Linked DNA regions of Homo sapiens: regions 1, 2, 4 and 5 are each linked to region 3. The links come from fine-mapping of genetic effects on gene expression. A gene starts in region 3. Each other region holds a variant in brackets. All regions are shown on one strand. Distances are between the middles of the regions. Region 1 overlaps FAM98C (family with sequence similarity 98 member C). Region 2 overlaps YIF1B (Yip1 interacting factor homolog B, membrane trafficking protein). Region 3 holds the start of SPINT2 (serine peptidase inhibitor, Kunitz type 2). Region 4 holds the start of DPF1 (double PHD fingers 1). Region 5 overlaps SIPA1L3 (signal induced proliferation associated 1 like 3).

What was found. PIP is the estimated chance that this variant, and not a neighbour inherited with it, causes the effect.
Region 1: its variant is fine-mapped to the expression of SPINT2 in whole blood (TOPMed, PIP above 0.99).
Region 2: its variant is fine-mapped to the expression of SPINT2 in whole blood (TOPMed, PIP above 0.99).
Region 4: its variant is fine-mapped to the expression of SPINT2 in whole blood (TOPMed, PIP 0.96).
Region 5: its variant is fine-mapped to the expression of SPINT2 in whole blood (INTERVAL, PIP above 0.99).

Annotation. Positions count from the first base shown.
Region 1 is chr19:38,406,959-38,412,083 of GRCh38, forward strand. FAM98C (family with sequence similarity 98 member C) reads left to right here. Exons shown (of 8, transcript NM_174905.4): 7 at 1-119; 8 at 1,793-2,126. The coding sequence ends at 1,924. It overlaps RASGRP4 (RAS guanyl releasing protein 4), which reads right to left. Exons shown (of 17, transcript NM_170604.3): 14 at 4,387-4,423; 15 at 4,157-4,291; 16 at 3,928-4,040; 17 at 2,100-3,138. The coding sequence ends at 3,082. Among named protein-coding and RNA genes, the nearest start is that of FAM98C, 6.4 kb to the left of the region's middle. The variant T/C (reference allele first, on the strand shown) is at 2,269.
Region 2 is chr19:38,307,286-38,312,285 of GRCh38, forward strand. YIF1B (Yip1 interacting factor homolog B, membrane trafficking protein) reads right to left here. Exons shown (of 8, transcript NM_001039672.3): 2 at 2,120-2,358; 3 at 1,939-2,043; 4 at 1,694-1,772; 5 at 1,507-1,564; 6 at 312-467; 7 at 143-236. Among named protein-coding and RNA genes, the nearest start is that of C19orf33, 5.5 kb to the left of the region's middle. RefSeq lists a silencer at 259-428. The variant C/T (reference allele first, on the strand shown) is at 2,240.
Region 3 is chr19:38,262,331-38,267,455 of GRCh38, forward strand. SPINT2 (serine peptidase inhibitor, Kunitz type 2) reads left to right here and starts at 2,243. Exons shown (of 7, transcript NM_021102.4): 1 at 2,243-2,668. The coding sequence starts at 2,563. RefSeq lists enhancers at 1-733, 874-1,791 and a silencer at 1,948-2,267.
Region 4 is chr19:38,220,224-38,225,348 of GRCh38, forward strand. It overlaps DPF1 (double PHD fingers 1), which reads right to left and starts at 3,999. Exons shown (of 12, transcript NM_001135155.3): 1 at 3,891-3,999; 2 at 2,325-2,485; 3 at 2,134-2,241. The coding sequence starts at 3,919. RefSeq lists a silencer at 3,764-4,333. The variant G/C (reference allele first, on the strand shown) is at 3,105.
Region 5 is chr19:38,175,820-38,180,944 of GRCh38, forward strand. The region is part of intron 15 of SIPA1L3 (signal induced proliferation associated 1 like 3); the gene reads left to right. Among named protein-coding and RNA genes, the nearest start is that of SNORD152, 15 kb to the left of the region's middle. RefSeq lists an enhancer at 1-172. The variant GTGT/G (reference allele first, on the strand shown) is at 2,274.

The DNA of each region.
Region 1 (5,125 bases), 140 kb after region 3:
TGACCCCAGAATCGGACATCTCCATTGCACACGTTCTGGCTGCCCGAGCCGACCTGTCTTGTCTCGTCCCAGCCACCAGCGTGGCTGTCCGCAGAGGGACCTGCTGTGCCATCAACAAGGTGGGCATCTGGGGTAGGGAAGGGCCCTGGCATCCTTGGCCTTCAGATTGGCCTTTCAGCCTCTGCTCCAGTCCAAGTTTCAGACTTACCACCTCTAATCCACCCACTAGACATGGCAGCTAGAAGGACCTCGCTCACACAAAAACTGACTGTGGACTCCCCAGCTCAGAATGCTTCCGTGGCTCCCTAATGATCTGAAAACAAAGTCTAGCTATTTACTGAGTCCCTGGCTACTTCTCCAGCTTGGGCTTAAAATCCTTCCCTATCACCAAACACTACCTATTTGTTGTTTTTTAACCTTTTTTTTTTTCAAGACAGAGTCTTGCTCTGTCACCCAGGCTGCAATGCAGTGGCTTGATCTTGGCTCACTGCAACCTCCACCTCCCGGGTTCAAGCGATTCTCCTGCCTCAGCCTACCGAGTAGCTAGGATTACAGGCACCCACCACCATGTCCGGCTAATTTTTGTATCTTTAGTAGTGACGGGGTTTCACCATATTGGTCAGGCTGGTCTTGAACTCCTGACCTTGTGATCTACCCGCCGTGGCCTCCTAAAGTGCTGGGATTACAGGTGTGAGAAACCGCACCCTTTTAACCATTTAAAAAAAAAAAACAAAGACAGAAATAGGCCAGGCACAGTGGCTCACGCCTGTAATCCCAGCACTTTGGGAGGCCGAGGCAGGCGGATCACGAGGTTAGGAGATCGAGACCATCCTGGCTAACACGGTGAAACCCCATCTCTACTAAAAATACAAAAAAAAAATTAGCCGGGCGTGGTGGCAGACACCTGTAGTCCCAGCTACTCAGGAGGCTGAGGCAGGAGAATGGCGTGAACCCAGGAGGCGGAGCTTGCAGTGAGCCAAGATGGCACCACTGCACTCCAGCCTGGGCGACAGAGCAAGACTCTGTCTCAAACAAACAAACAAACAAAAAACAGAAATACCCTCTGTTTTAGTGATTAGGTATCTAGCCGCATGCCTCTGTAAGTAGTCTTATGTAAAATGAGTATTAGGGAATAAAGTCTAACACAGCAACTATTGAGGCAAAATTTAAGTTAAGAAAAAAACTGAGCCCGAGGTGGGTGGATCACTTGAGCCCAGGAGCAGAGGTTGCAGTGAGCCGGGTTCTCGCCACTGAGCTCCAGCCTGGGCGACAGAGCCTAGGCGACTCTGTCTCAAAAAAAAAAAAAGAAAAGAAAAGTAGGCTGGGTGCAGTGGCTCACGCTTGTAATCCCAGCACTTTGGGAGGCCAAGGTGGGCGGATCACAAGGTCAAGAGATCGAGACCATCCTGGCTAACACGGTGAAACCCTGTCTCTACTAAAAATATAAAAAATTAGCCAGGCGTGGTGGCACGCACCTGTAGTCCCAGCTACTTGGGAGGCTGAGGCAGGAGAATCTCTTGAACCCGGTAGGTGGAGGTTGCAGTGAGCTGAGATCACACCACTGCACTCCAGCCTGGGCAACAGAGTGAGACTCCGTCTCAAAAAAAAGAAAAGAAAAAAGAAAGCTCATGCTAGTATCTTCCACCAGTTCAGTCCCCCCTCCCCCAGCCACTGTACTCAAATAGTCAACATCTGCTGTTTCTTCTTCAGCCTCATGCTGTTCCCTTCGCTCTCTGGCCCCCTTGTCCAAGATACTTTTTTTCTCTGCAACTCAAATCTCATAAACTCTCAGGTGCTTATGGGCAACGTTCCAGACCGGGGGGGCCGCCCAAATGAGCTGGAGCCTCCCATGCCCACCTGGAGGAGCCGAAGAGAGGATGGAGGCCCCCAGTGTTGGGGTCGCAAGAAGAAGAAGAAGAAGTAAAGGGGGACTGGTGGTCGGGGGCGGGGGGTCCTCCATGAGATGCTAATGCTATCGGTAATCTCTGGGGAGTCCGTTTAAGGCTTTCCTTGGTATTTGGCACCCAAGCCCCCCATCTCCTATTCCTGAGTCCCCAAATGCCCTGCTCCCATTCACGTCAATACCAAGAACCATGTTCTCCAGAGAATAAATTTAATTTATGACAGCTGTAGGACCTCTCTCTGTGGGGGCCAAGTCAGGGGTGTTGGGGTTTGTGAAGGGGTTGGGGGGGTCTCTGCTCCCTGGGACTGAATGGGCCCCTGCTGCTCGACCCTCAAAGTTCTTTGCCCTATAGCACATCTATCCTG[T/C]GCCGTGGGCATGGGTAAGGAGACATTCAGGCATCAGACAAGCATCTGTCAGGCGCCTACCACCTGCCAGCCCTGTTCTAGGCACTGGGGATGCAGCAGTGAATGACATTGATAGAAATCCCTGTTCTCCTGGAGTTGATGCTCCTGTTGAGGAAAGACAGACGTTCAACGAGATAAAGAGGGAAAAAGTATAGGCTGTCAGAGGGAGCACATTCTATGCAGAAAAACAGGAGCTGGGCGTGGTGGCTCACGCCTGTATTCCCAGCACTTTGGGAGGCTGAGGCTGGTGGATCATGAGGTCAGGAGTTTGAGACCATCTTGGCCAACATGGGGAAACCCCGTCTCTACTAAAAATACAAAAATTAGCCGGGCATGGTGGCGCGTGCCTGTAATCCCAGCTACTTGGGAGGCTGAGGCAGAAGAATCACTTGAACCCAGGAGGCGGAAGTTGCAGTGAGCTGAGATTGCATCATTGCACTCCAGCCTGGGTGACAGAGCAAGACTCTGTCTCAAAAAAAAAAAGAAATGGAGATGTAGGGAGTTGGTAGAATGAGGCCTGAGTCTAAATGTATCCAACACACAGCCGCACAGATACTAAGTGCAGGGAAAGGGAGCAGGATTAGCATCCACCAGGATGCAAAAGAGGAAAGTCACTTCCAGGGAAAAAGATGACGGACGTACCACTAAAGGCAGTGTGGATGGGAAGGCGGATGCCTCTGGAGGCCTACCTCTGGGAGCCCTGCCAGAGTCTGACGGCAGGACTCAGGACTGACTGGGGGAAGGGAGTGAGGAAGAGAGGAGACCAAGAGATGTCTAGGAATCCAGCTTGGAGGATGCAGTTGATGGTGGGTCCATCACCGGGCAGGGGACCTGGAAGGAGGAAGGGAGGAAGAAAGATGACAGATGATGTGGGGAGCATATGATGTCTAGGAGACGCTTCACTGCCAGGAACACTTCCCTGCCCAGACTGGTAAGTGGATGAATGAACGTCCCCTGTGGAATCCTTTTTGTAACCCAATCTGAGAGTCTCTGCCCTCAAATAGTGGCGTTTACTCCATTAACCCGTACAGTAGCTCCTGATATATTTGGCCTTATTCTTGCTATCTTATTGGCTAGAATCCTTTTTTCTGTTCTCCTAGTGGTTATTGTCCCCACCCTACCCCCAACATGTTGAAACTTCTATTTTTCTTTTTTTTTTTTTTTTGAGACAGGGTCTTGCTCTGTCACCTAGGCTGGTGTGCAGTGGCACAATCTCAGCTCACTACAGCCTCTGCCTCCCGGGCTCAAGTGATTCTCCTGCCTCAGCCTCCCGTGTAGCTGGGACTACAGGCACCCGCCATCACACTTGGCTAATTTTTGTATTTTTAGTAGAGATAGGGTTTTATCACGTTGGCCAGGCTGATCTCGAACTTCTGACCTCAAGTGATCCTCCCACCTCAGCCTCCCCGAAGTCCTGGGATTACAAGCATGAGCCACCACACCCAGCCTATTTTTCTATCAATATTAAAAAGTAACCAGTATCCATACCCTCCTACCCCAGCAGTCAAGGACTTCTGCATATTTGTACTTTCTATGGGTCTCCAAATCTGTCCAGTCTTCCCCACGCCAATGGCCTGTGTCCCCTGTATCCACTTGGGGGTAGGGGCGGTTTCTCCTCACCGTATCTGTTTCCCAGGAAGGGTGTGGGGATTCAGTCTGGGTCCAGGCATGGCGAAGCTGGCACCCAGTCTCAGGCTCCAGGGATAGCGTGTAGGAGTGATTTTCCTCGGAGCCTGTTTGTGGGTGGATGGAAGGGATGTGGGTCTGATGGGAAGGACCTCTTCTTGACCTTGGACTCAACCCCTTTCCCCCAGGCCCCTTCCCAGCACCGGTGTGCTCTAGGTCTTACCACAGCTGGCATGGGGAGCTGGTGTGGATGGGACAGGAGCTCCGGGGGGTCCTGCATCGCCCTTGGCCCCTGGCCTCTTCTTACATTCTACCTTCACCTGGTCTCTGCAGTGTTTGTGGCAACACAGCCCGCACTCTGGGGGAAGGCAGCGGCAGGGGTCCGATCTGTGTCATCCATTCTTCCAGCCTGCGGGCCAAGGCTTCCCTCCCACTCACTGACACCCCACTCACCCCGACAGCGGTAGCCTTGCTTGGTGACACCCCAGAGCTGGGAAGAGAAAGGAGAAAAGGTTACCCATCCTAGGAGAGGGAGGGCTGTGGATTGGCAGGGCAGCTGGGGAGTGGAAGTGTGGAAGCTACCCAGGTTTTGAAATTCTCAAGGCTAGAGATTTAACTGGAATTAAAGGAATGTGGGTGGGGTACAGTGGCTCATGCCAGTAATCCCAGCACTTTGAGACGCCAAGGTGGGAGGTTGGGAGGCCAAGGTGGGAGGATCGCTTGAGCTCAGGATTGGAGGCTGCAATGAACCATGATCGTACCACGGCACTCCAGCCTGGGTAATAGAGCAAGACCCATCTCTTAACAAAATAAATAAAGGAAACTTGGAGATTATCTCAAGTTTAGATAATCACCTCAGATATTAGATTTAGGTAAAATTTAGAGTTACTAAAATGCAAATTCTATGGGCAAGAGTTGTCTGCTGTATTCCTGCTGTAACCCCAGGGCCTAGGATTACCTGGCACACAGGAGGTGCTCAGTAAATATTTCATGAATGAATAAATGAATGTGGGAAGTAATCCAAGGTTTGTGAATTAGTCTCGGGTTATAGGTTGAGAGATTGATCCACTAGCCAGAGTTTGAGGATCTCTTGAATTTGGAAGTTATTCAGAGTTTGAATGATCTGGAGTCTAGAGATTTGGAGGATGATTCTGTTTGAACATAATCTACCCGGTTTGGAGATTATCCAGGT
Region 2 (5,000 bases), 45 kb after region 3:
CAGGCCGGGCAGCCACTCCAGGGCTCCTCAGTTCAGCAATGTGTCTCTGGTCTGAACCCCACACCTGACATCCTCTGCTTGGATGCCTGGATGCCTCCGGGGCACCTGTGCCTCAGCCTCACCAGCCCCGAGCCCAGCTCACCATGAACACAAAGATGGCTACGCAGCACCAGCCCAGCACCAGGTAGTAGCCAATCTTCCCGAAGAGCAGGCCCATGAGGACCCCGCCAATCATCCTGGGGGAGGGAGAGGAGGCTGTGTGAGGACAAGGCCCAAGGGCTGGGGCTGGCGTGAAGGGCGGGGGTACTCACCCGACATATTTGTAGCCCAAGAAGGCCACCAGGTCGATGGTGGTGAGGTCGGTGTTGACAGTGACCAGATAGAGGCTGAGCAGGATGGCCAGCACCTCCAGGGTCAGCCAGGCCAGGGCTGAGCTCGCTTGCAGCCCCAGGAGGTCTGGGGAGAACCTGCAGGCACAAAGCCCCGCCACTTGGTTGGCTGGTTCAGACCCCCCACCCCCAGCACCCATCTGGGGACAGCTCTGTGTTGGGTAGGGCTGGACACCTGGCAGTGACCAAGATGGATGTGCGCGCTATCCTATTCCCACGGAAATCCCATCCAGAGAGGATGGCAGACCCATCCCTAGACAGTGACACCCAGAGCAGGCAGGGCTGGAGTCACAGGGGGCTGTGCTGACAGTCAGGAGACAGGTGTCAGAGAGGGCTTCCCAGGAGAGGGGACACCGAGCTGAAGCCTGCAGGAAGGAGCTGGTCAGGGACAAAGCCCTTGGCCTCTGCCACATCCCCAGGGCCTCACCAGTTAGTTAATGACAGATGTGTTCAGTGCCATAAAGGAAAAGAACAGGGCGATGTGAGCAAGAGGAGGGGCCTGATCTAGCCTGGGGGGCAGGAAGGCTTCCCGGAGGAGGTGATACTGGAATGGAGCCAGCAGGGATGTGCAGGTACTCGGCAGTAGTGGAGGGGAACACGCTCCTGGGCAGAGGGGAGTTGATGTGACAAGGCCCCAGGAGACAGTGCCAGCCCTCCCAAGGAAAGGAATAGACCGGAGCGTGCAGCGGGAGGGGCAGTGCCAGGCTGAGGAGCTGGGGCTTGATTGGGAGCCATGGATAGCAGGGCGGGGCAGGGTGGGCCAGGCCCGCACCTCAGACAGGACCATCCTGGCTGCTGCTGGAGTAGGGGTGCAGTGGGGAGCTGGTGATGACAGAGGGAGGATGAGGATGGGTCTGGTAGTAGAGGCCAAGAGGAAGGGTGGATGGAGAAGGGTCACCCAGCACAGGGGATGGTGACGCAATGCATGTGGGTAGGAAGGACAGGGAAGAGGCGAGGGTGATGCTGACAGTGACCCTGAGGGCTGTATCTTGGGCCAACTGGGAGCAAAGTGGGGCTGTCCTGAAAGGGGAACTGAGACCTTGGAACTGAGACCTTCCTGACCAACCATGGGCCTCCCAAACCCCACCTTATTCGGCCTGCCCCAGGCCTCCCTTACCTATCCTGGGTCCCCAGCGCAAGACCAGCCACCAAAACGTAGGTGATGAAAGCCATTGCTGTGGGAGACAGACACACAGACACTGGTCACCAGAGGAAGAACTGCCCTGGGCCTCCAGGCACCCACACACCCGCTCCATATAGGCCCGGAAGAGAGAGGAGGGTGCAGGGTAGGGGGAGGGTGAAACCTGGAATGTAGAGGTCCGGGGCATTGACGTCAAAGCGGGGGGCCACCGGGGTGTCCTGTTGGTACTGCACTTCCCAGTCCTGCGGGGATGGGGAGACGGGCAGGACCCTCAGAGCCAGGCCCCTCCCACCCTGCTACAGGCCCTCCTCCCTCGAGGCGAATCTCCCGGCTCCACCATGCACCTGCCCCCACCCCTGAGCCCCCCACAGGCCCACTGCAGACCCACATTCCCCTGGGGGTGCTGACCTGGTGTAGGTAGGGGAAGAACAGCAGGCCCAGCTTTCTGCCCACATACATGGTGTCCACAGCAAAGTAATACTTGAGCTTGGTGATGGGGATGAAGCGGTCGATCTGGGGAGGCAGAGCTCAAGTCTGAAGCCCTGTGGCCCCGTGCATCCCCCCACTCCCACCAGCCCCGCCCACTCACGTTCTTATCCACCAGCTCCTTGCCCTGCGCGGCCAGGCTGCTCCCATAGGCCATGGCCATGTTGGACACCGGGTCAGCCAGGAAGGCTGCATGGGGCGTGGGAGAGGCTGCAGGATAACT[C/T]AGGCCACCAGGTGCCCGCTGGGCCCCATAGCCCCGGCTCTGGGCTGAACTTGTGTCATCGAAAAGCTGGTGGGGGTCGGCCATGCCCGGCTGGGACACAGGGATCCTCCGCTTCGAGGCTGCAAGGGAAGAGAGTGAGAAGGAGCTGGGGACCCAGGATAGGTAAGGGAGACCTGGCGAACCTCATTCATCCCACAGCTCTGCCTCCTGCTGCAGAGGAGGGTGGTGTCACCATTAGAGACACTGGCTTTGATGTCAGATGGACTGGCAGGTGCAAGCTCTGCCATTCATCCACCAACCCACCCATCTAGCCAACTATCCATCCACTGATACATTCATCTATGCATCCATTCATCTACCCACCCATCCATCCACCTATCCATCTACCCACCCTCCCACTCACCCACCCATCCATCCATCTATCCATCTAACCATCCATCCATCCATCCATTCATCCATCCATCCATCCAGCCATCCATCCACCCACCCATCTAGCCAACTATCCATCCACTGATGCATTCATCTGTCCATCCATTCATCCATCCACCCATCCATCCATCCACCCTCCCACCCATCAATCCATCCATTCATCCATCCACCCACCCATCTATCCATCTATCCATCTACCCACCCACCCATCAATCCATCCATTCATCCATCCACCCATCCATCCATCCATCCATCCACCTATCCAACCATCCATCCATCCACCACCCATCTAGCCAACTATCCATCTAATGATGCATCCACCCACCCACCCACCCATCCATCCATCCACCTACCCATTCATCCATCCACCCACCCACCCATCCATCCACCCATCCACCCACCTATCTAGCCAACTATCCATCCACTGATGCATTTATCTTTCCATCTATCCATCCATCCATCCACTCACCAAGCTATCTATCCATCCACCAACTCATTCATCTATCCACCCATCTATCATCCATCCATCCATCATCATCCATCCATCTAACCATCCATTCACCCACCCACCCATCCACTTATCATCCATCCATCCAGATATCAATGATGATGATTATCTCAAAAGCTACTATGTGCGAGAGGAAGGGGGGGCTATTGGGCACAAAATCCTGTACCAAGCCTTTTACACAAGGCCGCTGTCCATATCTCCTATGCTCCCCCTCAATGACTTGGCTCCAGCCACCTGCGCCTCCCAATGCTCACTGAATGCACCAGGAAGGTGCCTGCCTCAAGGCCGCTGCACCAGCTGTGCCTCTGCTTGGAACGCTCTTCCCCCAACATCCTCAGAGCTCCCTCCTCTCCTCCTCAAGGGCTTTGTTCAGTGAGGCCTTCCCCAGCCATCCTGTCTACAACCGTACCTCCCTTGGTGGCACTCCCCACCCCCTGCCCTGCTTCACTGATATCCATAGAACTCGGCACTAGCTGACATGCTGGCTGTCTTATTTTGTTCACTGTCTCCCCCACTCAACTGTGAGTCCCCCAAGGTGGGGATCTTGATCTCGTTCACAGCTGAGTCCCCAGCCCCTTGCACAGGGTTAGAGTAGGCACTTGATAAAAACCTGATCAATGAATAAAGGCAGCCTGGGCAACATGGCGAGACCCCATCTCTACAAAATATAGAAAGATTAGCTAGGTGTGGTGGTTCACGCCTATGGTCCCAGCTACTCGGGAGGCCAAGGTGGGAGGATCGCTTCAGCCTGGGAGACAAAGGTTGCAGTGAGCCGAGACTGCACCACTGCACTCCAGCCTGGGCAACACAGTGAGACCCTGTCTCAAAAAAAAAAAACAAAAAACAAAAAACAGAATAAATGACCACTCCCAATTTACAGGTGTGGAAACCAAGGCCCAGACAGCTAAAATGACTTGTGCAAAGGGCCAAACTGAGTGAGTGGCAGAGCAGGAGTCCAGCCCTGCTGTGCCTGATAAATATTACAATAATCCTGTGGATGAACTCATCTCATCTTCACAACCACCCTGTTTCTGCCAGCTGCCAATGCTATCATCATCCCCATTTTACATATGAGAAAAGCAAGCCCTAAAGAGGCTCAGGCCTTTGCCCAAAGTCATAGTATGAGAGCCAGGTTTCAAAAGTTTTTAAAAGGTCCCTGTGGCCTCACGTGGGGAACAGATGAGGGGTGGGCAGGGAAGGGAGAGAGGCTGCTGGGGTGATCCAGGTGGGAGACCATGGCAGACAGGACTGGGGGTGTAAAAGAGGAATGGGTTATTTCTGGATCAGTTTCAGAGCTAGGAGGGACAGGACTTGCTGAGGGGTGCTCAGAGGAGGTGTGTTAAGAAGTGGGAAGAGGCCAGGCGCAGTGGCTTACGCCTGTAATCCCAGCATTTTGGGAGGCCAAGGCAGGTGGATCACCAGGTCAGAAATTCAAGACCAGCCTGGCCAACATGGTGAAACCCCATCTCTACTAAAAATACAAAAATGAGCTGGGCATGGTGGTGCGTGCCTGTAATCCCAGCTACTCCGGAGGCTGAGGCAGGAGAATTGCTTGAACCGGGACCGGGGAGGTGGAGGTTGCAGTGAGCCAAGATCGCGCCACTGCACTCCAGCCTGGGCTACAGAGCGAGACTCCATCTCAAAAAAACAAAACAAAACAAAACAAAAAACGTGGTAAGAGGCTGGGCATGGTGTCTCACGTCTATAATCCCAGCACTTTGCGAGGCTGAGACAGGCAGATCACCTGAACTCAGTTCAAGACCAGCCTGGCCAACATAGTGAAACCCCATCTCTACAAAATATAAAATAGCAGGGCATGGTGGC
Region 3 (5,125 bases):
TAGCTGGGACTACATGCTCCCGCCACCACGCCCGGCTAATCTTTTTGATTTTTTCACCGTGTTAGCCAAGATGGTCTTGATCTGCTGACCTCGTGATCCACCCGCCTTGGCCTCCCAAAGTGCTGGGATTACAGGCATGAGCCACTGCGCTCAGCCCTCCTTTTGAGTTTTTGTGTTTAAAGTTCAAAACTGGACAGATGCAGTGGCTCACGCCTGTAATCCCAGCACTTTGGGAGGTCAAGGTGGGCGGATCGTGAGGTCAGAAGTTCGAGACCAGCCTGGCCAACATGGTGAAACTCCATCTCTACAAAAAATACAAAAATTAGCTGGGCGTGGTGGCGGGTGGTGCCTGTAATCCCAGCTACTCAGGAGGCTGAGGCAGGAGAATTGCTTGAATCCAGGAGGTGGAGGTTGCAGTGAGCTGAGATCACAGCATTGCACTCCAGCCTGGGCAACAGGTGAAACTCTGTCTCAAAATAAAATAAAATAAAGAAAGAAGAGGCCTATACCTTCTTCCAAGCCTTGACGGCTCAGCACATACTTCTCTGTTTTCATGCTCAAGCCTAGGTTTAGTAGGCCTGAGTGGCAGTGGGAGATTCAAGTGCTGGGGGAGACCTTTGGCCTCACATTCAGATTCCACCTTGAGTCCCATGATCTCATTGCAAGGTTAGACTTCCATTGTTTAAGGTAAATACCATTTTGATAACTCAGTTACGGCTTTTCATGTATTATTATGCTAGGAGGGAGGCTGAAGAGTGGGAGTGGCCCTGGCTCCTGAACACACTATTCTCTTTCCTGCCTGAAGGCCTCCGCATGTGCCATTCCTGATTCTTGGAATGTTTGTCCCTTGGCCTTTATCATCCTTCAGAGTTCATTATCAAAGCCACCCCTCACAAAGCCCTTCCTCCGCCACCCCATTCAAAAGATCTCTTGTTATTTTCCATCCCAGCCCCTGATTCCTTTTCTGTATAGCACTGTCAAAGTGTTTTCAGGCCAGGTGTGGTGGTTCACGCCTGTAATACAACACTTTTGGAAGGATGAGACAGGAGGATCCCTTGAAGCCAGGAGTTTGAGACCAGCCTGGGCAACATAGCAAGTCCCCTGTCTCCACAAAAAATTTAAAAATTAGCTGGATGTGGTGGCTCACATCTGTAGTCCCAGCTACTTGGGAGGCTGAGGTGGGAGGATCCCTTGAGCCCAGGAGGTCAAGGCTGCAGTGAGCCAAGATCACTCCATTGCACTCCAGCCTGGGCAACAAGAGCAAAACTTCCATCTCAAAAAAAAAAAAAAAAAGAAATAATCTAAAAGTGTTTTCAATAATAATGCATTTATGTTGATTACCTTGTTGGCTATCCTCTACTCGTGTGCCTGCCCCACTCCATTCCCCTTTCTAGAGTCTGTTCACGTAACTCCTCTTCCAGGAAGCCCTCTTTGACTCCCAGGCTTGGTCAGGTGTCTTCTCTGGGTTTCCCCAGGGGCTTCCTTCCTCTCAATTCTGATGCTGCCTGTGCTAAGTATTTGTCTCCATATCTGTCCTGAGAACCTTGGAGCCAGGGCTCGGGGCTGTTTTTGCATGGGCCTATCACCTCCTCCAGGAAGCCCTCCTTGGCCCTCTCTCAGGCTGGATGGGAAAGCTGTCTGGGCTCCCATCATGCCCTGGTTTTCTAGCGACCCAGCCTCTGATCCCTAAGCTTGGCCTTCCCCATCACAGCTTTCATCACTTTGTGCTAAGCTTCCGCTATCACTACTCTGGGCCGTTCCTGTTTGGTGACTCAGGGACCAGTCTGGCATGGCCACCGCTGGGTCCCCAGCATTAAGCCCTGGAGCATGAGCCCAGTGAACTTTGAAATTCAGGAAGGAATTCACAGGAAAGCTGCGGCGAGGCGGGCAGAAAACCACAGGCTTCCAAGAAACGCGTGTCTGCCGCCCCCTCCTCCCACCCTGAGGCCAGTCCTAGAGCGAAGGCCCTCCTCCGACGTCGTCACCAAGCCCAAGGGAAGGGTGGCAGGTGCTCAGCGGGCAGACGCCCCGCCCCGCCCCGCCAGGTTCTGTTGGGGGCGAGGCCCGCGCAAGCCCCGCCTCTTCCCCGGCACCAGGGGCGGGCCCAGGTGCGCCCAGGGCCGGGGAGCGGCCGCGCAGGTGCCTGCCCTTTGCGCCTGCGCCCAGCTCGCCCTGCCTAGCCAGGTGCGCCCCGCCCCCTGCCTGCCCGGCCACCTTCGGGAGCCGCTTCCAATAGGCGTTCGCCATTGGCTCTGGCGACCTCCGCGCGTTGGGAGGTGTAGCGCGGCTCTGAACGCGCTGAGGGCCGTTGAGTGTCGCAGGCGGCGAGGGCGCGAGTGAGGAGCAGACCCAGGCATCGCGCGCCGAGAAGGCCGGGCGTCCCCACACTGAAGGTCCGGAAAGGCGACTTCCGGGGGCTTTGGCACCTGGCGGACCCTCCCGGAGCGTCGGCACCTGAACGCGAGGCGCTCCATTGCGCGTGCGCGTTGAGGGGCTTCCCGCACCTGATCGCGAGACCCCAACGGCTGGTGGCGTCGCCTGCGCGTCTCGGCTGAGCTGGCCATGGCGCAGCTGTGCGGGCTGAGGCGGAGCCGGGCGTTTCTCGCCCTGCTGGGATCGCTGCTCCTCTCTGGGGTCCTGGCGGCCGACCGAGAACGCAGCATCCACGGTGAGGGCCGGGCGGGTAGGCTGGAGGCGGGGCGCAGGGGGCAGAGGCTCGGGGGTCAACGGGGGTCTGAGCAGGGAGAACTGGCGGGGGAGGAAACTGGGGGCTACTTGATGGCGTTCAGCGGGTGTGGTGGAACCAGCCCTGGAGGATTGAGCCTTGAAATGAGGTTTGGGAGCCTTCGACAGCGAAGACGGGCGGAGGAGCGAGGGTTAGGAGAGTTTCCTTCGGGTGGAGGAAGAGTCAAGGGGTATTGACCAAGAAGGCGTGGCACTGCCCCTTCCTGTGGCAAGAACGGGGTGAGGAGCCGAATTGAAGACCAGCCTTCTCCTGGCGGTGGAAAGTTCCATGGCCAAAGCTCAGGGAGAGGCCAGGCCTGTGAGATGGTGGGGGTTGGGTTGGGTGACCTGGTGGCCGTTTTAGACTCGGAAGAAGCCCATCTCACCCCTGCCTCTTTGGAGATTGGACAAGAGCCTCCCCTGAAGTTTTTGTAGTTGAGTTGCAGTAAAGTAGGTGCCCGAGAAGGAGGGAGCAAGAAAGGAAACAAGCTTTGGGGAAGAGGAAGCTCTGCTAAGGCTCGAGAGAGTATTGGCGTTGAGCAGCTGGTGTTGGGGTCTTTGGATTGGCCCTTAGAAGTCGGTGGTGAATAAGGTGATTTAAACTTCTACACTCTTAAGGAAGTGTGGTCTGAAAGGTCTCTTTGAACAAGTGTTGTTATAACCTTAACTGCTTCAGACAAGCACCAGCGTGTTTTGAAAAGAGCTCTCTTGAAAGCAAGAATTCATTGATTCAGCAAAACTTACTGAGGCCCTGCTACGTGTCAGGCACTGGCGCTGGTTATAACAGTTAACTCAGACTAGCTGGGTTCCTGCATTCACAGAGCTAATATTCCAGTGGGAGAGGCAGAGCTAGTGAAGGTTTAAAAAGCACTTGCCATGAGATTAAGTTACTGAGAATTAAATGAACCAGGTGAAGTACACCAACAGGGTGACGTAAGATGTTGGGGGCGGCTTTAGCTCAGGTGGTCGGGGGACGTCTCCGTGAGGAGGGTGACATCTGAGCTCTAACATGAAGAATGAGGCAGTAGCCACACGGAGACCTGGGGGACCAGTGTCCAGTTGCAGGCAATAGAGTACAAAGGCCTTGAAGCTGGAACAAGCTTGGTTGGGTTCAGGGAAAAGACAGAGCCAGCCTGGCTGGAGCAGGCGTGAAGGAGGGGAGGACTGGAGGAGGATGGGAGGTGGGAGAGGTTGGCTGCAGCCAGATGGCCTAGGGCTTTATAGACAGGTGCTGGTGCTTGAACCCGGGAGGCGGATGTTGCAGTGAGCCAAGATCGCGCCACTGCATTCCAGCTTGGGCAACAAGAGTGAAACTCCCATCTCAAAAAAAAAAAAAGAAGGCCGGGTGATGTGGCTCATGCCTGTAATCCTAGAACTTTGGGAGGCCAAGGCGGGCAGATCACTGGAGGCCAGGAGTTCAACACCACCCTAGGCAACATGATGAAACCCCGTCTCTACCAAAAATACAAAAATTAGCTGGGCATGGTGGTGCACACCTGTAGTCCCGGCTACTCGGGAGGCTGAGGCAGGAGAATCGCTTGAAGCCCAGAGGCGGAGGCTGTAGTGAGCTGAGATCAAGCCACTGCACAGCAGCCTGGGCGACACAGCAAGACTCAGTCTCAAAAAAAAAAAAAAGAGCAGGCTAGGTGTGTACCAAGTCATCACCTGTGGTAACTTCTGGGGACTGGTTAATTTCTCTGTGCCCTAGGCAGGAGAAAAAAGTGAATTGGTGGGGAGAGGCTCAGCTGTAGGTGACTGGGAGTCAGGAATGCAGACGTTGATCATTCTTGCAATTCGAACCAGAATTTGGCAGCTCTGCTGGACTTTTTCAGTTTAAGTAATTACGTTAGGATGTACCTCCCAGTTACCTGGCCTCTTGCTACCTCTGGTGCTTACTCTGAGCTGGGACATGGCCTCTTGCTACCTCTGGTGCTTACTCTGAGCTGGGATGTGCCATTTAACCTTTGAAACAGCCGGGTGCGGTGGTGAAGTTACTTGCCTTGCCCGAGGTCACTCGGTAGTAGTAATTGACAAAGCCAGGTCTCACTGCAGAGGCCTTCTCTGTTCAGAGTGGCCTACCTGACTGCTGCTGCCGACTGGACCTACTGACCTTTCAGAAGTACTAGTGTCTGACTGGGTGAACTCATGCCCTCACTCATCGTAAGTTCTGTTTGTTTGAAAGCTTGAACAGCTTAATCGGAGGCAGAAGGCAGTTTTGACTTTTTTTTCCTCGCTCCTTCCTGATTGCTTCTGTTTTCTCCGGAAGCGAGTCATCCACTGGGAGTGTGGTGTTGCTGAAGCTCCATGCAGTGGCTCAGGTGCTGCTGGATGAGTGTGGTGGTGAGGGAGGAGTGAACAGAGAATGTGTGAGGGAGGGAGGATGGGGGTTGGTCAAGGAATT
Region 4 (5,125 bases), 42 kb before region 3:
GAGAGAAAGAAAGAAAGAAGGAAGGAAAGAAAGAAAGAAAGGAAGGAAGGAAAGAAAAGAAAAAGAGAGAGAGAGAAAGAAAGAGAAAGAAAGAAAGAAAGAGAAAGAAAGAAAGAGGCCGGGTGCGGTGGCTCACGCCTGTAATCCCAGCACTTTGGGAGGCCGAGGCGGGCAGATCATGAGGTCAGGAGATCGAGACCATCCTGGCTAACACGGTGAAACCCCGTCTCTACTAAAAATACAAAAAATTAGCTGGGCGTAGTGGCAGGCGCCTGTAGTCCCAGCTACTCGGGAGGCTGAGGCAGGAGAATGGCGTGAACCCAGGAGGCGGAGCTTGCAGTGAGATCGCGCCACTGCACTCCAGCCTGGGCGACAGAGCAAGACTCCGTCTCAAAAAAAAAAAAGAAAAAGAAAAAGAAAAAAGAAAAAAAGAAAGAAACAATTAGCCCTCCAGATACACCTAGACCCTGGGGAAGACACAGCCAGATGAGATGCTTGGACACATAGCGGGGAGATACCGACATACTCAGGGAGAATCACTCAGCTAGATACACACAAACACACACAGGAGACAGACAGGAAGAGACACAGCCAGGTGGGCACTGCCACGCTCCTGGGTACACACAGACCCTCGGACTCAGGAAGAGAAACTGACCCCGAGGATCCCGATATTCCTAAACACATTCAAGGGTAAGTCCAGATCCTCTGATGGACTGGCACACACGTGCAGAAATACACCTGATACGCCAGACACCATCAGGAAGATTCTCCCAGACACTCCGAGGCACCCACACACCCACAGAAAGAGACGGCCGCACCGCCTAACACACCCAGACACACTCGGGAGGAGCCGGACACCCTGACAGACCAGACATACACAAGACACAAGCCTTCTAAGACACTTGGAGACACCTGGGAAGATACACCTAAGAGAGGAAAGAGCTCCAACCAGACACTGAGACATCCAGACGCCCTTGGGGAGATACAGAGGCAGACACCCTCAGGCACCCACAGAAAAAAATACAGGCAGATGGCCGGGCATGGTGACTCAAGCCTGTAATCCCAGCACTCTGGGAGGCCAAGGCAGGTGGATCACCTGAGGTCAGGAGTTCGAGACCAGCCTGGCCAACATGGTGAAACCCTGTCTCTACTAAAAATACAAAAAAATTAGCCGGGCATGTCAGTGTGCATCTGTAATCCCAGCTACTCAGGAGGCTGAGACAGGAGAATCGCTTGAACCCACTAGGCGGAGGTTGCAGTGAGCTGAGATTGCGCCACTGTACTCCAGCCTGGGTGACAGAGCCAGACTCCATCTCAAAAAAAAAAAAAATACAGGCAGACTGATCCATCCCAGTTCCCAGGGGAAGGGACACAGTCAGCAACTCCATACACCCACACACACCTAACAGATATCACTATGCCCTCCAATACCACTGGGACCCTTGGTGGGGCATGGTGGTTCACGCCTATAATCCCTGCACTTTGGAGGGCTGAGACAGGAGGATCCCTTGAGCTCAGGAGTTCAAGACCAGACTGGGCAACATAGTAACACCCTGCCTCTATTTAAAAAACAACAGGCCAGGCGCGGTGGCTCACACCTGTAATCCCAGCACTTTGGGAGGCCGAGGTGGCCAGATCACCTGAGGTCAGGAGTTCCAGACCAGCCTGACCAACATGGTGAAACCCCGTTTCTACTAAAAATACAAAATCAGCCGGGCATGGTGGCGCATGCCTGTAATCCCAGCTACTCGGAAGGCTGAGGCAGAATCGCTTGAACCTGCTAGGCGGAAGTTGCGGGTTCAAGGTTCAACTCCCCGCTAGGTGGAGGTTGGGGGATCACGCCATTGCACGCCAGCCTGGGTGAAACTCTGTCTCAAAAATAAATAAATAAATAAATAAATAAATAAATAACAACAACTGGGCACCTGGGCCCATGTAGGAGGAGATGCAGTCGCCACTCAGTGACTCAGAGAAACTGTGGAATCTCTGGGAAACACCCGGGACGCACATGGGCAGACAGACACACAGCCAGCCAGGCAGACACTTGCTAGAAGGCGATAAAGGTGATGGACGAGTGCTAGGACACACAGCAGGCGCTGGGACACCGATGGGGGCCCCAGCGGCTGCACCCACCGATCTTGTACTCGCAGGGCCTGAGTCTGGGGTCCTCCAGGATGTTGAGTCTCCGTTTCTTCCTCCAACAGCGGGCGGGGTACGTGTAAATCTGTCCCGGGGCCAAACCTGGAGAGAGAGGGGGGTGAGAGGGCGGCGGCGGTGGGGCGGCCTGGCCCCGCCCCGCCCTGCGCCAGCCCTCCCGGCGGTACCCGGCCCGCGGTGGGTCTTCTCCATCCAGATGTAGCAGTTGTTCTGGGCCACGCCGGTCTGCGAGTCGAGGAAGGGCAGTCGCAGGCTGCGCTCGGCGCACAGGCGCGCGTTGTAACTGCGGCAGTGCTCGATGGCCTCGCGGTAGAAGTCCTCGCCTAGGCTAGAGGGGCGGCGAACGGGCGGGCGGCTGTCAGCAAGGGCAGGCGCACAGGGTCGCCCAGCACCCCTTCCCCGGCTGCCGGGCCGCCCAGGCTCGGGAGGGGTGGGCCGACCCCTCCAGCCTCACCTCTCCCCTCCTCCCACTCCGGGACCCAGGCTGGGGGAAGGGGACAGGGCCCAGGGGCCCCCAAACTGGGACTCAAACAGGCCCCCAGCTCATGAGTAGAAACACGATACAGAAACAAACAAAAACACACCGGGACGTATCCCTACCTGAACACATGCAGACACACAACACAAATCACACACAGTCACACGGGATTCACACACAAAGAGAGACAAATCCCAATACTCACAAAGGAGAAACAGACAAACCTCACACACGTGCACACATAAATATCTACTGAAAAAGACAAATATCCCAAGTTCCATAGTGTGGAGACAAATCACACAAATAACCATGCACAAAGACACATCACATATCCACAGACACACACCAGAAACACATCACCCACACAAAGACACACAACATGGAAACATCACACCACACACACATACACCCCCTCATGCATCCAAAGACACAAGCATGTCAAAAGACAGGAACTACAGAAACCACTTGC[G/C]CCCCTAGGCACTTACCCATGTATCCAAAGACACAACACAAACCACACACACAATATCCAGACACACAACACAAAGAAATCACACAGATTCACACAGGTACACACACACATTTACAAAGATGCACGATGCGCAACCAGTATCTAAAATATCACACATCCACACAGACACACACACATATAAAACACAGAAACAGCCAAATCCACCCATAGTCACACAAAAATTTACACACAAATACACGCAGCCCTACATACCCAAAAACACAGAACACAAGACAAATGACATATAGTTCCAAAGGACACGGACACACACTGGGAGACCCAAATATCCAAAGATATCTAGTGCAGAATAAAAGGAAACAGACACATGTCCACACACCTATCCCCCAAAAATTCTTAAAAAAACCAGAACACAAATAAGTGATACACACACACACTCCACATCCCAAGACAAAGGTAGTGTGGACTTCACTCCAGTTGCCAAGGCCCCCGCACCCCCGGGTCATTTCAGTCTCTCCCAGACCCGAGGGTTGCAGGGAAGGGATGATGTCTCCCTTCCCCAAAAAGAATCTGGAGGCCCCCCACGCCCTCCACCCCGCCAGGGAGCGGTGCATCCGACACCATTCTTGTCAGAGACCCACAGTCACACACTCTCGCACCCCCGCGCAGCCCCGCACTCGGTGACAGCCCCCCAGACACCCCTTCGGCCCCACCCCCGGTCGCCACACACACACAGGCCCGCGTAGACCCGCCCGCGCTTCCTCTCCGCCTCCCGCCGGCCCGCACCACCTCAGGGGGCCAGGGATGACAGTGGCCATCTTGCTCCCCGGGTCCTGCCCCCAGCAGGTCCCCGCCGGGTCGGTCCTCCCAGCGGTCGGGCGGGCGCTGAGGCCGCCCATCCATTCATTCCCGGGGGGCGGGAGCACGAGGGCCACGGCCAATCGCGGCGACGGGGCGGGCCCGCCCGGGCCATGCTGGGAGTGGTAGTCCCAGGCCAGGGGGCCCCCGGGACCCCGCGGGGACGGGACGGCGCGGAGGAGGGGCCCGGGGCACGCACCGTCACTCACCCGCCCTCACTCGTCCACATATCCTGCTCTCGCGTGCACACAACCACATGCACACCTGGACTCGCACACGCCCACGCATGGCAGTTTACACACACATTCACGCGGATACTCACAGCCTCCCACACACTCCTACTCACACACCTTCGCACGGACTCACACAGCCACACGCACACACACTGCAATACTAAGAGACGCAGAGACACCTCCCAGGTGCCCACACAGACTTCTCACCAACATGCTTCCAGCAGACACCCCCTCACCGCCCCCCACCCAAGTCCCTCCTGGCTCCAGAGACCCCACCCGGGGCTGTCTCTCCCAGCAGCCACGCTCACGGTCACCCCGCCCTGCTCAACGCCTTCTGCAGGCCTGACAGCAGCAGTGCAGGTTAGAAACAGTAGTCACACCTCCAGGGTTCAAATCCTAGCTCTGCCACTTGGTGGCCATGTGACCTTGGCAAATGACTTAACCTTTCTGGGCCTCAGTTTCCTCATCTGTAAAAAGAGGATGATGCCTCACTGGAGTGTTGTGAGGATTAAATGAGTAAATATAGGTAAAGCATTTTAAGAGGTGACTGGCAGGCCAGGCGCAGTGGCTCACACCTGTAATCCCGGCACTTTGGGAGGCCCAGGCAGGTGGATCACCTGAGGATGGGAGTTCGAGACCAGCCTGGCCAACATGGTAGTAGTCTCTACTAAAAATACAAAATTAGCCGGGCATGGTGGCGCATGCTTATACTCCCCCACTCAGGAGGCTGAGGCAGGAGAATCACTTGAACTCAGGAGGTGGAGGTTGCAGTGAGCTGAGATCGTGCCATTGCACTCCAGCCTGGGCAACAAGAGTGAGACTCCCTCTCAAAAATAAATAAATAAATAATAAGAAAGAAAGAATAATGCGGCCAGGTGCGATGGCTCCAGTCTGCAATCCCAGTACTTCGGGAGGCCTAGATGAGAGCACTGC
Region 5 (5,125 bases), 87 kb before region 3:
AGGTGGACAGCAAAGCCCACACTATGCTGCCCCAGTTTTCAAGTTGATATTGAGACTTCAGGAGGACGCATGGGCACACTGGCGCTCCAGAAAGAAAGAACGTTCAGGCTGGGCGCTGTGGCTCACGCCTGTAATCCCAGCACTTTGGGAGGCCGAGGCGGGCGGATCATGAGGTCAGAAGTTCAAGACCAGCCTGACCAACATGATGAAACCCCGTCTCTACTAAAAAATACAAAAATTAGCCAGGCATAATGGTGGGTACCTGTAATCCCATCTACTTAGGAGGTTGAGGCAGGAGAATCACTTGAGCCTCCTGAGTAGCTGGGATTACAGGTGCACACCGTCACACTTGGCTAATTTTTTTTTTTTTTCAAGTACAGATGGGGTTTCGCCATGTTGGCCAGGCTGGTCTCAAACTCCTGACCTCGGGTGATCCATTCGCCTCAGCCTCCCAAAGTATTGGGATTACAGGCGTAAGCCACTGCACCCGGCTGGCCACTTACTTTTTACCCTGTGCCATTTATGTAGTTTAATTAGACTTTTTTTAGGGTTGGTTTTTTTTTTGTTTTTTTTATTTGCTTGTTTTTTGTTTTTTTTGAGTGATGGGGACTCTGTCACCCAAGCTGGAATCCAATGGTGCAGTCATGCCTCACTGCAGCCTCAAACTCCTGGGTTCAAGCGATTCTCCCACCTCAGCGTCCCAAGTAGCTGGGACTACAGGCATATGCCACTATGCCCAGCTTAATTTGACTTTTATTCCGTACATGTTCCCCATCATTACTACTTTCAGAGAGAATCCATTAGTGTACACTCCTCCAGAGATTTTTCTCTAAACCTTTACCAACCCAGTTCTTTCAAACATACCACTTAGGCCAGGCATGGAGGCTTACACCTGTAATCCCAGCACTTTGGGAGGTCAAGGCAGGTGGATCACCTGAGGTCAGCAGTTCAAGACCAGCCTGACCAATATGGAGAAACCCCATCTCTACTAAAAATACAAAATTAGCTGGGTGTGGTGGCACATGCCTGTAATCCCAGCTACTCGAGAGGCTGAGGCAGGAGAATCGCTTGAACCTGGGAGGCGGAGGTTGCAGTGAGCCAAGATCATGCCATTGCACTCCAGCCTGGGCGACAAGAGTGAAACTCCGTCTCAAAAAAACAAACAAACAACAAAAAAACAAACAAACAAACAAAAAACATGCCACTTAACCCTTACCTTGCAAGAAATACAGTGACTTTTTAAAAATTCTAGTTTAGCTGGGCCGGGCGCGGTGGCTCACTCCTGTAATCCTAGCACTTTGGGAGGCCAAGGTGGGCAGATCATGAGGTCAGGAGATCGAGACCACCCTGGCTAACACGGTGAAACCCCATCTCTACCAAAAATAGAAAAAACTAGCCAGGTGTGGTGGTGGGCGCCTGTAGTCCCAGCTACTCAGGAGGCTGAGGCAGGAGAATGACGTGAACCTGGGAAGCGGAGGTTGCAGTGAGCTGAGACTGCGCCACTGCACTCCAGCCTGGGTGACAGAGCAAGACTCCATCTCAAAAAAAAAAAAAAAAATTCTAGTTTATTTTGCCAGGCGCAGTGACTCATGCCTGTAATCCCAGCTCTCAGAGAGGCAGAGGCAGGAGGATAGCTTGAGCACAGGAGTTCGAGACCTGCCTGGGCAATTTAGTGAGACCCCATTCCCCACAAAAAGGGGGAAAAAAGGACAAAAAAAAGTATAAAATTCTACTTTATTTCTTTTTTTCTCTATACATATGTGTGTATATCTATCTATATATTTTTTCCCTTAAATACACAGAATCATGTTTTATACCATGCATCGTTTCCATTTACTATAGTTCAGACCATCTGTCCTCATACATAAACAGAGATTGACCTTTGCACTGGCTGCATAGTTTTTGATCATAAGGATATGCTTGCGGCAGGGCGCAGTGGCTCATGCCTGTGATCCCAGCACCTTGGGAGGTCGAGGCAGGTGGATCACTTGAGGCCAGAAGTTCAAGACCAGCCTAGCCAACATGGTGAAACCCCGTCTCTACTAAAAATACAAAAATTATCCAGGCATGGTGGTGAATGCCTATAATCCCAGCTACTCAGGAGGCTGAGGCACAAGAATCGCTTGAACCCCGGAGGCGCAGAGGTTGCAGCGAGCCGAGATCACACCACTGCACTCCAGCCTGGCCATTTCCAACTTTTCCTGATTATAAACAGTACTACAGAGACCGTCCTCATACCTGCCTGTGTGTGCTTGTGCAGGCTTTTGGTGTGT[GTGT/G]GTGTGTGTGTGTGTGTGTGTGTGTGTGTGTGTGTGTGTGTGTTTTGTAGCTAAGACTATGGGACTATGGGCATGTGCTATTATTCCTGGCTATTTTTATTTTTTTGTGGAGGCAGGGTCTCTAGGGCTGGGCATGGTGCCTCACAACTGTAATCCTAGCACTTTGGGAGGCTGGGGTGGGAGGATCATTTGAGCCCCGGAGTTCAAGACCAGCCTGGGCAACATAGCAAGACCCCGTCCCTAGATAGAGTCTCTACAGCAACTCCTGGGCTCCAGCAGTTCTCCCACCTAAGCCTCCCAGAGTGCTGGGATTACAGCATGAGCCACCATGCCCGGCCTTGTGCAGGCTTTTCTATTGCATGGATTTCTGGGAGGCCAAATGTCTTGTTTTTGTTTTTGAGATGGAGTCTCACTCTGTCGCCCAGGCTGGAGTGCAATGGTGCGATCTCGGCTCACTGCAACCTCCGCCTCCCAGATTCATGCCATTCTCCTGCTTCAGCCTCCCGAGTAGCTGGGACTACAGGCGCCCACCACCATGCCCAGCTAATTTTTTTGTATTTTTAGTAGAGACAGGGTTTCACTGTGTTAGCCAGGATGGTCTCGATCTCCTGACCTCATGATCTGCCCGTCTTGGCCTCCCAAAGTGCCGGGATTACAGGCATGAGCTACCACACCCAGCCAGGCCAAATGTTAAGCTGAAGCCAGTCATCCTTCAGTTCTCAGTTCTGATGCTCTTGTCTCCTGGGGAAAGCATTCCTGACCATTCTTGGTGTTACATGCTTCAGTAGTTCCCTGGACATCTCCTCACCAATGCCTACTCTTTGCTCCATTGATAGATGTTGCTAAATTGTGGAAAGCATTACATAGTTGCTGTTTCAATCCAGTCGGACAATCCCTGCCTTTTGATGGGAGTGTTCAGACCATTCACGTTAAATGTAATTATTACTGCTAATGGTTGGATTTGCATTAGCCATTTTGCTATTGTTTCTGTATGTCTACTATCTTTCTTGCTCCTCTGTTCTTCCTTACTGCCTTATACTGTAGTAAATAAATACAGTTTCAGGCCGGATGTGGTGGCTTACACCTGTAAAATCCCAGCACTTTGGGAGGCCCAGGCGGGCAGATCACCTGAAGTCAGGAGTTCGAGACCAGCCTGGCCAGCATGGCAAAACCCTGTCTCTACTAAAAATACAAAAATTAGCTGGGCGTGGTGGCATGCACCCGTAATCCCAGCTACTCAGGAGGCTGAGGCAGGAGAATCGCTTGAGCCAGGGAGGCGGAGGTTGCAGTGGGCCAAGGTTGCACCACTGCCCTCCAGCCTAAGTGACAGAGTAAGACTCTGTCTCAAAAGTTAAAAATAAAAAATATATATAATTTAGTATAACATTTGGATTCTACTCTTGTGTAACTATCTTTTTAGTTATTATAATGTGCGTCTATCACTGCAATTCAGGTTAATACTAAATTCCAATAAAATATAAAACTTTTCTCCAATATTGTCCTATTTCCTTCTCCCTTTTTTGTGCTCTGTTTATCATAAACATCCATATGTGTTTTAACCCAGCAGTATAGTATTGTCATTATTGCCTTATACAGTCTTATGTCTTTAAGGAAGTTAAGAGAAGAAATAAGAAAGCATATACTTTTATAGAATCTTATTTTAAACCACAGTTTGCCATCTTGGGCTATTCATTTCTGTCTACTGACTCAGGTCATTGTCTAGAGTCATTTCTTTCAGCCTGAGGACTTTTTTTTTCTTTTTTTTTAGATGGAGTCTCACTCTGTCACCCAGGCTAGAGTGCAGTGGCGCAATCTCAGCTCACTGCAACCTCTGCCTCCTGGGTTTAAGCAGTTCTCCTGCCTCAGCCTCCTGAGTAGCTGAGATTACAGGTGCCCGCCACCACTCAGTTAATTTTTGTATTTTTAGTAGAGATGGGGTTTCACCATATTGGCCAGGCTGCGAGCTCTCCTGACAGGCGATCCACCTGCCTTGGCTTCTCAAAGTGCTGGGATTAACCCGAGGAGTTTTAAAATTATTTTGTATCAGGCAGGTGTGCTAGCAACAAATTCTCTCCATCTCTGTTTATATAGGAACATCTTTCTGTTGCCTTCATTTTTCAAGGATGGTTTTGCTGGGTATAGAATTCCTGGTTAACAGTTGTTTTCTTTCAGCACTTTAAAAGTTACATTTTATTTCATTCTTTTAAATGAGAAGTCAGCAATTAATTGTGTTTTTTTTTCTTTTTTATAGAAGTGGGGTCTCACTGTGTTTCCCAGGCTGGTTTCCAACTCCTGGGCTTGAGTGATCTTCCCGTCTTGGCCTCCCAAAGTGCTGGGATTATAGGCCTGCTAATTGTATTGATGCTCCTCTATATGCGATGCATCATCTTTTTCTTGATGCTTTCAAGATGTTTATCTTAGCATTTTTCTTTTTTTCTTTTCTTTTTTTTTTTTTTTTTGAGACAATTTCACTCTTTTTGCCCAGGTTGGAGTGCAACGGCATAATGGCGTGATCTCGGCTCACCGCGACCTCCGCCTCCCGGGTTCAAGCGATTCTCCTGCTTCAGCCTCCCAAGTAACTGGGATTATATGGATGCGCCACCACACCTGGCTAATTTTTTTGTATTTTAGTAGAGATGTAGTTTCTCCATGTTGGTCAGGCTGGTCTCGAACTTCTGAGCTCAGGTTATCTGCCCGCCTTGGCCTCCCAAAGTGCTGGAATTACAGGCGTGAGCCACCGCGCCCGGCCAGCATTTAACTTTCAACTCCTTTTCTAGGTGTGAATCTCTTTGTATTTTTCCTACTTGGTGTTTGTTGAGCTTCTTGGATGTGTAAGGTTTTCATCAGAT